Linked DNA regions of Homo sapiens: region 2 is linked to region 1. A link means that fine-mapping ties the variant in region 1 to the expression of a gene that starts in the linked region. Tissue or cell type: whole blood. Region 1 holds a variant in brackets; the other region holds the start of a gene. All regions are shown on one strand. Distances are between the middles of the regions.

Region 1 (5,154 bases):
ATTCAAGGACATTTATAAGTATTCTGTTATAATATTTATCAATTATGACTTTTTAATGACATTTAACACTGCAAAGTATTGTCAGCAGTACATTTTATTGCAATTATCTTAAACACAAAATAGCAAAAAAGAATAACTTCATCAGATAACATGGTAACAATTCTATTAGATGTAAAATGACTGTTACGGTTACTGAGCACACAATAACAACTTTTCTTTACAATTACAGCTGACTCATGACTCACTGAGAATAAAAGTAATCTATCACTAAAGTATAAACAAAATAATAATTATAAGAGTTACAAAAGTCTCATATACCACTTGGACTGCTTTCATACAGTAAACATTATCAGCAAAAAACTACTTGTTTATCCATTCTTTTATATACTATAATCACAAGGAACATGAAATTGCTTAAAAAAAAGACTTTAGATTCTCTAGTAATAAATAAAAATTAAAACAAGGTACCATAATTTTCCTTTAGAAGTAGTTTTTTAAATGATAATGAAATACTGTCAAGGGAGCATGTGCTTCTTACACAATTCTCAAATAGTAGTGAATGAGTCAACTAACACAATATCTCAGAAAAATTCTTTCACAGAGGGTTAAATATATTCATACCTGTTCACCCAGTAATTCTTTTAGGATTCTATCCTGGGAAATGAACATGATGGCAACATAGATCATAACCTCCATTCTAGCAAACTATCTGCACTCCATCCTTTAGAGAATGAAAGTTTTTCTCATTTTGAAAAAAAGTAAGATGTACATTCTCAGTAAACTATCACAAGAACAAAAAACCAAACACCGCATATTCTCACTCATAGGTGGAAACTGAACAATGAGAACACATGGACACAGGAAGGGGAACATCACACTCTGGGGACTGTAGTGGGGTGGGGGGAGGGGGGAGGGATAGCATTAGGAGATATACCTAATGCTAAATGACAAGTTAATGGGTGCAGCACACCAGCATGGCACATTTATACACATGTAACTAACCTGCACATTGTGCACATGTACCCTAAAACTTAAAGTGTAATAATAAAATAAAATGAGATGTAGAATAAATGTACCTAATTACATATTCTAAGAACCATATCCAGAACTTATAAGCAAATATTTCCAAATTGTTAGGTCATGCTTAGTTGCCCCACCCAATCCCAAAGGGAAAAAAAGACACAGCAAGTTGAAATGGTATGTACACAGGCTCTGTGAAGCTATCCAACAGAACTGTCTTTGACAATGGAAATGTTATATACCTGTATAGTCCAATATGGTGGCAACTAGCCACATGTAGTCACTGAACACTCAAAATGTGGATAATATGACTGAAGCACTATTTATCTGAGACAAAGTCTCACTCTGTTGCCCAGGCTGGAGTGCAGTGGTGCAAACATGGCTCACTGTAGCCTTAACCTCCCAGGCTCAAACAATCCTCCCACTTCAGCCTTCCAAATAGCTAGGACTACATGTGTGCCTGGCTAATTATTTTATTTTTTTTAAGAGATGGAGTCTATGTTACCCAGGGTGGTCTTGAACTCCCTGGGCTCATGTGATCTTCCTACTTTGGCCTCCCAAAGAGCTGGGACTACAGGAATTTTTTTTAACTTCTATTTTCAGTTCAGGGGTACATGTGAAGGTTTGTTATATAGGTAAACTCATATCACAGGGGTTTATTTTTACAGATAATTTCATCACCCAGCTATTAAGCCTGGTACTCAATAGTTACTTTTTCTGCTCCGCTCCCTCCTCCCACCCTCCACTCTCAAGAAGACCCCAGTGTCTGTTGTTCCCTTGTGTTCAGGAGTTCTCATCATTTAGCTCCTACCTGTAAGTGAGAACACTAGGTATTTCGTTTTACTGTTCCTGCGTTAGTTTGCTAAGGATAATAGCCTCTATCTCCATCCATGTTCCCACAAAAGACATGATCTCATTCTTTTTTATAGCTGCACAGTATTCCACGGTATGTATGTACCACATTTTCTTTATCCAATCTGTCACTGATGGGCATTTAGGTTGATTCCATGTCTTTGCTAACATGAATCACGCTGCAATTGACATTTGCATACGTATATCTTTATGGTAGAATGATTTTTATTCCTCTAAGTATATACCCAGTAATCAGATTGCTGGGTCCAATAGTAGTTCTGCTGTTAGCCTTTGAGTAATCACCATACTGCTTTCCACAATGGTAGAACTAACTTACACTCTCATCAACAGTGTATAAGTCTTCCCTTTTCTCTGCAACCTTGCCAGCAACTGTGGGTTTTTTTTTTTTTTTTTTTTTTTTACTTTTAATAATAGCCATTCTGACTGGTATGAGATGGTATCTCATTGTAACCTCTATCTGCATTTCTCTAATCCTCAGTGATACTGAGTTTTTCACATGCTTGCTGGCCACATGTCTTCTTTTGTAAAGTATCTGTTCATGTCCTTTGCCCACTTTTTAATGGAGTTGTTTTTGTCTTATAAATTTAAGTACCTTGTAGATGCTGGATACTAGGCCTTTGTCAGAT[G/A]CATAGTTTGCAAATATTTTCTCCCAATTCTGTAGGTCGTTTGGTTTACTCTGTTAGTTTCTTTTGCTGTGCAGAAGCTCTTAAGTTTAATTCGATCCCATTTGTCAATTTTTGCTTCTTTTGTGATTACTTTTGATGTCTTTGTTATGAAATATTTGCCCATTCCTATGACTAGGATGGTATTGCCTACGTTTTCTTTCAGAATTTTTATAAATTTTGGGTTTTACATTTAAGTCTTTAATGCATCTTGAGTTGATTTTTGTCTATGTTGTAAGGAAGGGTTCCAGTTTCAATTTCTATATATGGCTAGCCAGTTATCCCAACACCATTTATTGAGTAGGGAGTCTTTTCCCCATTGCTTTTGTCAGCTTTGCTGAAGATCAGGTAGTCATAGGTGTGCAGCCTTATTTCTGGGTTCGCTATTCCATTCTATTGGTCTATGTGCCTGTTTTGGTAACAGTACCATACTGTTTTGGTTACTGTAGCCCTGTAGTATAGTTTGAAGTTGGGTAACATGATATCTCCAGCTTTGTTCTTTTTGCTTAGGTGTACCTTGGCTACTCAGGCTTTTTTGGTTCCATATGAATTTTAAGACAGTTTTTTCTAGTTCTGTGAAGAATATTGATAGTTTGATAGGAATAGCATTGAATCTGTACACTGCTTTGGGCAGTATGGTCATTTTAATGATATTGATTCTTCCTATCCATGAGCATGTTTTTCCATTTCTTTGTAACTTCTGATTTCTTTGAGCAGTGTTTTGTAATTCTCATTGTAGACATCTTTAACTTCCCCTCCCTGGTTAGCTGTATTCCTAGGTATTTTATTCTTTCTGTGGCAATTGTGAATGGGATTGCCTTTCTGATTTGGCTCTTGACTTTGCTCTTGTTGGTGTAAAGAAATGCTAGAGATTTCTGTACATTGATTTTGTATCCTGAAAGTTTGCTGAAGTTGTTTATCAGTTGAAGGAGCTTTTGGGCTGAGACTATGGGGTTTTCTACAGAATCATGCCGTATGCAAACAGGGATAGCCTGACTTCCTCTCTTCCTATTTGGGATGCTCTCTTGCCTGATTGCTCTAGCTATGACTTCCAATACCATGTTGGATAGGAGTGGTGAGAGAGGACATCCTTGTCCTGTGCCAGTTTTCAAGGGAAATGCTACCAGCTTTTGCCCATTCAGTATGATGTTGGCTATGGGTTTGTCATAGATGGCTATTATTTTGAGGTTTTCCTTCAATACCTAGTTTATTCAGAGTTTTTAACATGAAGGGGTATTGAGTTTTATCGAAAGCCTTTTCTGCATCTATTGAGATAAATGTGGTTTTTGTCTTTAATTCTGTTTATGTGATGAATCACATTTATTGAATTGCATATGTTGAGCCAACCTTGCCTCCCAGGGATGAAACCTACTTGACTGTGGTAGATTAGCTTTTTGACATGTTATTGGATTTGGTTTCCATGTATTTTGATGATTTTTGCATCAGCGTTCATCAAGGATATTGGCCTGAAGTTTTCTTTTGTTCTTATGTCTCTGACAGGTTTTCAGTATCAGGATGATGCTGGCCTCATAGAATGAACTGGGGAAGAGTCCATCCTCCTCAATTTTTTGAAAGGGTTTCAGTAGGAATGGTACCAGCTTTTCTTTGTACGTCTGGTAGAATTCAGTTGTGAATCCATCAGATCCTGAGCTTTTTTCGGTTGGTAGGTTATATATTACTGATTCAATTTGGGAGCTTATTATTGGTCTGTTCAGGGAATCAATTTCTTCCTGGTTCAGCCTTGGGAGGCTGTTTGTGTCCAGGAATTTATCTGTCTCTTCTAGGTTTTCTAGTTTGTGTACTTAGAGGTGTTCTCAGTAGTTTCTGATGATTATTTTTATTTCTGTGAGGTCAGTGGTAACATCCCATTTGTCATTTCTAATTGTGTTTATTTGGATCTTCTCTCGTCTTCTTAGTCTAGCATGGGTTCCTGGAGTTGTACATTTACTCACCACTTCCCTGGGTGGTGGAAGTTCCCCTGGCTCTGTGTCACTCCTAGGTGGGCTGTCATCCTGCCTTGCTTTTTGCCATTCTCCATGGGTTAAGTTGTTTCCTGGATTAGTCCCAATGTGAACATCTGGATGATTCAGTTGAAGGCGCTGCATTTACTCGCCCCTTCCCTGTGAGAGTGGCACTTACGCTTCCCTGTGAGAGTGGCTCACATTAGCTGCTTCTAATCAGCCCTGGATTTTTTTCTTTCATTTTAATTAATGTAAATTCAAATAGCCACATGTGGCTATTGGCTACCATACTGGACAACACAGCTCTAGAGCACTGGTTCTTAACCCTGACAGCACATTAAACTTACTTGGGATCACAGATGCCCAGGTTCCACATCAGAAGAATTAAGTCAGAATCTCTGGGGGGTGAGACTCAGGCATTTGTATTTTTTAAAGCTCACTAAATGATTCTAACGTGAACCCAGATTGAGAACCACTTTTGAAATCAGCAGATTTGGATGTGAGTCCTGCTTTTGGCTTACTAAGTCTATTGCCTCAGGCAAGTTAATTAAATTATCTAAGCCTCAGTTTCCTCATCTGTAAATAAAGAAAATATAGAACTTATTTCATAGGGTTCTTGTGAGATAATTAAATAAGAT
Region 2 (5,154 bases), 51 kb after region 1:
ATGTGTGTTGTAACTGCTGTGCTAGAAATGAGACAGAATCCCAGATTTCCCTGCCACTGCTATAAATTACAGAACAGGAATTAATTTGTGTGGGGGTATTTTTGAGCTACCACCCACTGGTGATTATCAGAGGTGATAATTCTCTTAGTATAACAGGGCTAATATCTTACCAAGATATTTGCTCTGAAAGAGCAAAATACTACCAGTATCAGAAAAGCTAGTATTTCCAGAAAGTACCTTCTGAGGACCTAGAGCTATCTGTTGTTTAGTGGAAGGTCAATACACAAGTTTATATTTCTTCAGAGATGAGCGAAAGATACAAGGAAGCCAGGTCCCAGTGGGTCACACACAGCTTTTCAAGCACGACACACATTACGGAAACATAAGACTGTGGCATTTCACACTCATCTAACTTCTCATTTGCAGACACCTGCCATTTAGCAAAATAAAGTGGGAGTCCAGAAAAAGGAGTACTTGGTAGTAGAAGACAGAGCTGCCTGTTGTATTTCAAAAAGTTAAGCCTTCAAAAACTTTTCAGACATGTGGGCGACTTTTTTTTTTTTTTTTTTTTTTTTTTTTTTTGAGACGGAGACTTACTCTGTTGCCCAGGCTGGAGTGCAGTGGCGAGATCTCGGCTCACTGCAACCTCTGCCTCCCAGGTTCAAGCGATTCTCCTGCCTCAGCCTCCCGAGTAGCTGGGATTACAGGAGCGTGTCACCACGCCCAGCTAATTTTTGTATAAAATTCTTCCTTGACCACCCTCTCCACCTCGAAAAAAAGTAAAGCCTTACTAAGCATGACACTAATGCAAACTCAATGCATACGCTACACAAACATATAACTCCTTATTTGGAGCTAATAATATTCCAAGCCAAGGAAACCTACAAATAATTTCGCTATAGTCATAGGAGAGTGTGAAGATACAAGATAGCAACTTGATATATAACTCACATCAAGAAAACTTTCACCAGCGTTTAAGGGAAAGGAGTTGTAGATGTGGGTCATTTAATACCCACTTCCAAATTCACTGAAGTGGACAGCGCCCTACACACAAGGTGAGACCTACAGGCATCATTGCTTTGAAGCTGCATTTAAGCTCTGAAGCTCCAATATTTATAGAAGACTTTTAAAACTTTGTAAGAAATCACAAAGTTCCCCTTCTTTAAAACAGATCAGTGCTGGGAAGGCTCAAAAGTCACTTTCACTCCCTTACCAAATCATCAAAAAGCCCGGAGTGGCAGGGCCGGGAGCCGAGCATCTCGCGCGCAGCCCCAGCCTGCACAGGTGCGGAGCTCGGGGGCGGCTGGGGGCTCTCGCCCCGCCGCGCGCAGCCTGGAGGCGGCCCCTGCCCTCTTGCGCCTCACCGCCGAGGCCCATGTCCCCTGAGCCACGGACACGGTTCAACAGACACATAAACACGTCTCGCAAATGTGGGGACAAACTGTTCCACCGTTAGGTATAGGGTGGTTTGCTTGGTGGTCACGGATTCTTTCTCAAAACGTGAAGCTTCCAGGAGCACTCCTGTCTTGGCAAAGCCCCTGCGCTGCCGATGAACCCCCCGGGAGGTGGGATGCGGCCGCTGAGCTGAGCACGACCCTCTGCCCTCGCCGTGAGGTGATGCTGAGGGAACCGCCAGCGGCCCGGCCCCTCTGCCAAGGGCGAATTTCCGCGGGCCGGCAGCGAGCCAGGCGCCTCAGGCCCCACGGCGACCTGGCCCGGGCTCTGCCCCCAGACCTTCCGCCGTGGCTGGGTGTGGGTGGCAAAGCCAAAACAGCCCTCTGAGGAGGGGAGCGACGCCCTCGCACCAGCCTTCTCAGGGCGGCGACGCCCCGGGTTGCTCCCCACCGGGTCGGAGTCCGGGGGGTATGAGGGACTCCCACTCCCCGCCCCCACCCCTCTCCGCAGCGCGCCTCCCGCACCTGCGCCGCCGCTTCCGGCCCCGCTGGCCTCCGACACTGCCCGCTGCGCCCGCAACCACGGGAGCACGTCCTTCCCGAGGTCGAAGTCGGCGACCAGGCGAAGAGCCATCGCCCGGACACGACCACCGGGCGGCTCTGGGGCCCCGCACCGCGGGCATTCCCGGCCCCGCGTGGCCGCCTCGCCCTCGCGTCCCCGCTCCCGCCCCCTCTTTCCTCTCCCCCGCCCCCTGCTGCTTTCGGTTCTGCAGCGCCCTGGCCTGAGAAGCTCCGGCACCAGCTCCTCCCGGCCGGCGGCCCGCACCTGAGCCGGAGCCGGAGCCGGGCACGGCGGGTAGCGGTGGGGCGGGGTGGACCAGGCGCCAGGACCAGGCCCGCCGGGGCGGGAGGCCTCCGCGCGCACCTTCGGGGCTGAGGATAGAGGGCGCAAAGACGTGGGCGCTTCAGGGCCTTGGCGAGGCCGCTAGCCCAGTGGCTTCCAAACCTGGAGGGTCGGCCTATTTTCTTTATTCTACAAGTGCCTCCACTGTGCAGCAAAGTGTGGAAACCACTTGGCTTGAGAGAGCTGGGTCCTCTGGAGCAGTTCAGGGTCACCACAGAAGTAGGCCGTCTCTTGGGCCTATTCGCCCCAGCTTCGAGGTGGTGGTGCTTTATTAGTGTTATTAAGGTAATGAGTAGCAACTGGGAGCGTATGACGAAGGTGATCCCATTGTAAGAGAAACGCTAAAAGGGGTTAATGCGCTTGATACAAACAGCGTCCTTTTTGCCTTTTAACTCTAGTACATCTCATTTGATGCCTTGAGACATGAAAACTGAATCTTAAGTCTCCACGCAAACCCTCTGCCTCCCACCAGGGTCTAACAGAGCACTCTGGAAGGTGCTCGACAATTACTGAAGAATGAGTGAATACAGTAATAAAGAATGCTTTTTCACATGCTTCCGAAATTAAGGTCTGAAAACTACTTGTATTGACGTCATCTGGGGCACTATTTTACAATGCAGACTCCTGATCTCTACACCTGGACAAGACCAGAAACGTGCATTTTACCCAGAGCCTCGGGTGATTCTTAGGCTTACTAAGTTTGAAAACTACTCCAACCAAATGTAAAAGAAAGTCTTGAATTTTTTTCCCTCCTAGAGACATGTTTCTCCAACTGAGGTAATGGATGATTTCAGGTAGAACTCCATTACTCACCACCATATACAGAGGAAAGTCCTCCCACCCGGGAAGTGCATGCAAATTTAAGATAAATGCCTAATGAAGCTGCTAATATTATCAGTGAATAAAAGGAAGGCCACTGGAGCCCCCAAGGAGCTAATGCAACTATTTCATATCAAATAAGCTTGTTGCCTTTGTCATACAGAAACACTGTTGGCCAATTTTTTAAAGTCAGTACATTTCCATTGTTTTTATTTTTGCAGTTAACTTCTATTTTTGCCAGGCAGGACTGATTTTATAGTCAAGCAGTGATGATATAAAAAATTCTCTTCAAATTAAGTGAAAAAGCCAATGTAAAGAAGGTGAGAAACAATAAGATAATGATAGAAAGATGTGGCCAAAATCATGAGGGTGCTATATGAAGGCATGTGTATCAGTTAGGATTAGATTCTCCAGAAGTTAATAAGAACTCAGATTAACAGTAAATTAAACACACAAGTTTTATTCTGTCACCTAGCTGGACGTAGGCAGAATAAAGCTCTTAGGGCAGGTTCCTGAATTTATCAGGGACCCAGGCTCCTTCCAGTTCTTTGCTCCACCTGATCCTGAGTGTACCCTTGTCCTCATGATCAAAGAGGGCTGCAGAAGCTTCAGCCTTCACGTCTGCATTCCAGAAATCAGAATGGAAGAAGAGGAATAAAAAGAGGATGCTACCTCTCTTTTAAGGATACTTCCCGGAAGTTCTACACAACATTTCTACGTATGTTTCACTCACCAGAATTTAGTCACATGGCCAAATGTAGCTTTCAAGGGAGGCAAGGAAATATACCTGGCCATTGCTGTGCCCAGATAAAAATCAGGACGGTATTACTGAAGAAGGTGGGGAAAGTAGATATTCAGAAGCAATTAGAGATCTCTGTCAGAGTATGATACCCGATTCCGGCCACTGAGTTGTAAGGAAACCTCTGCTATGACAGATTTCTCTATTCTTAAAACAAGAGACATGGGAAAAGATGGTCCCTTTCAGTCTTTAACTATTTCGGGATCTAGATATGATTGCTGGAATTTCAGCCATCTAGCACACTGAAAATGGAGTCATTGGAGTCAGGAGAGTCCAGAGAACTGCAGAGAAGAGAAACCTTGGTAAATTATTTTTGGAGCCATCCTCTGCCCTTTCTGATATTAGAGATGTTGAATTTCCTATTGTTTAAATGATATTCAGTCAGACTTTTATTTTACTTGCAACCAAGGGTTTCAATTTTAAGGAGTGATCATTTCAAAATTTAGGGCACAGGCCAAAGAGCACTATAATAATAGGTTTGTGTTTGAACACTTATTAGAACACATTCTATATTTTGTATTGTTAACATAAAATGAAGTTATGTTGAGGGAGTAGGCTTACAGGAAACAGCTCAGATAAGCAAAAAGAGTTTGTTGCAAAGCCCTGAAAACCTAAGGGCCTCTGGATTAGATCACCTGAAAGTCATTCTACGTATCATGCAAGCCAGTTTGAGTTGGGTTTTCTGTTACTTGTGCCAAAAGCATCTTAAATCAGGGATTTTCAAACTTTAATGAGCATTCAAATCACCTAAGGATCTTGATAAAAGGTAGATTCTGATTCAGCAGGGTGAGGTGGTGCTGAAGAGTCTACATTTTAACGAGTTTCCAGGTCATGCCAAAGCTGCTGGTCCACAGATGACATTTTGAATAGCAACATTCTGCTACTTAATGTGAGGAGCTTTCCACCTCTGTATTGCTGCCTTACTGTCCACCATAGAGAGGGCCAGGTGAGGAAATGCATGAAATGGCTAGCTTTGAAGATATACCAGAGCTAAAGGTCGGTATGTGAGGAGAAATCTAAAATGGAGGTAAATATTGATTCCAGAAGTTTGAACCACGCCATGAGTCACAAGTTTTAGTAGCAAGCCACAGAGAATCAGCTAAAGGGAGGAGATAAAGGTGCTTACACTATAGTAGAGATGCAAGCACAAGGCAAGAAAAGAGGTGAAGCAATGCAGAGAATCAGAATCTTCAAAATTATGATTCTTGTGCACACCGAAGTTTGGGGAGCACTGGTCT

The links. PIP is the estimated chance that this variant, and not a neighbour inherited with it, causes the effect.
Region 2: it holds the start of GSAP, and the variant in region 1 is fine-mapped to the expression of GSAP in whole blood (TOPMed, PIP above 0.99).

Annotation. Positions count from the first base shown.
Region 1 is chr7:77,363,630-77,368,783 of GRCh38, forward strand. The region is part of intron 12 of GSAP (gamma-secretase activating protein); the gene reads right to left. Among named protein-coding and RNA genes, the nearest start is that of GSAP, 50 kb to the right of the region's middle. The variant G/A (reference allele first, on the strand shown) is at 2,520.
Region 2 is chr7:77,414,294-77,419,447 of GRCh38, forward strand. GSAP (gamma-secretase activating protein) reads right to left here and starts at 2,056. Exons shown (of 31, transcript NM_017439.4): 1 at 1,920-2,056. The coding sequence starts at 2,028. LOC101927243 (a long non-coding RNA gene) reads left to right here and starts at 905. Exons shown (of 5, transcript NR_110073.1): 1 at 905-1,055. RefSeq lists silencers at 1,222-1,511, 1,572-1,781, 2,002-2,351.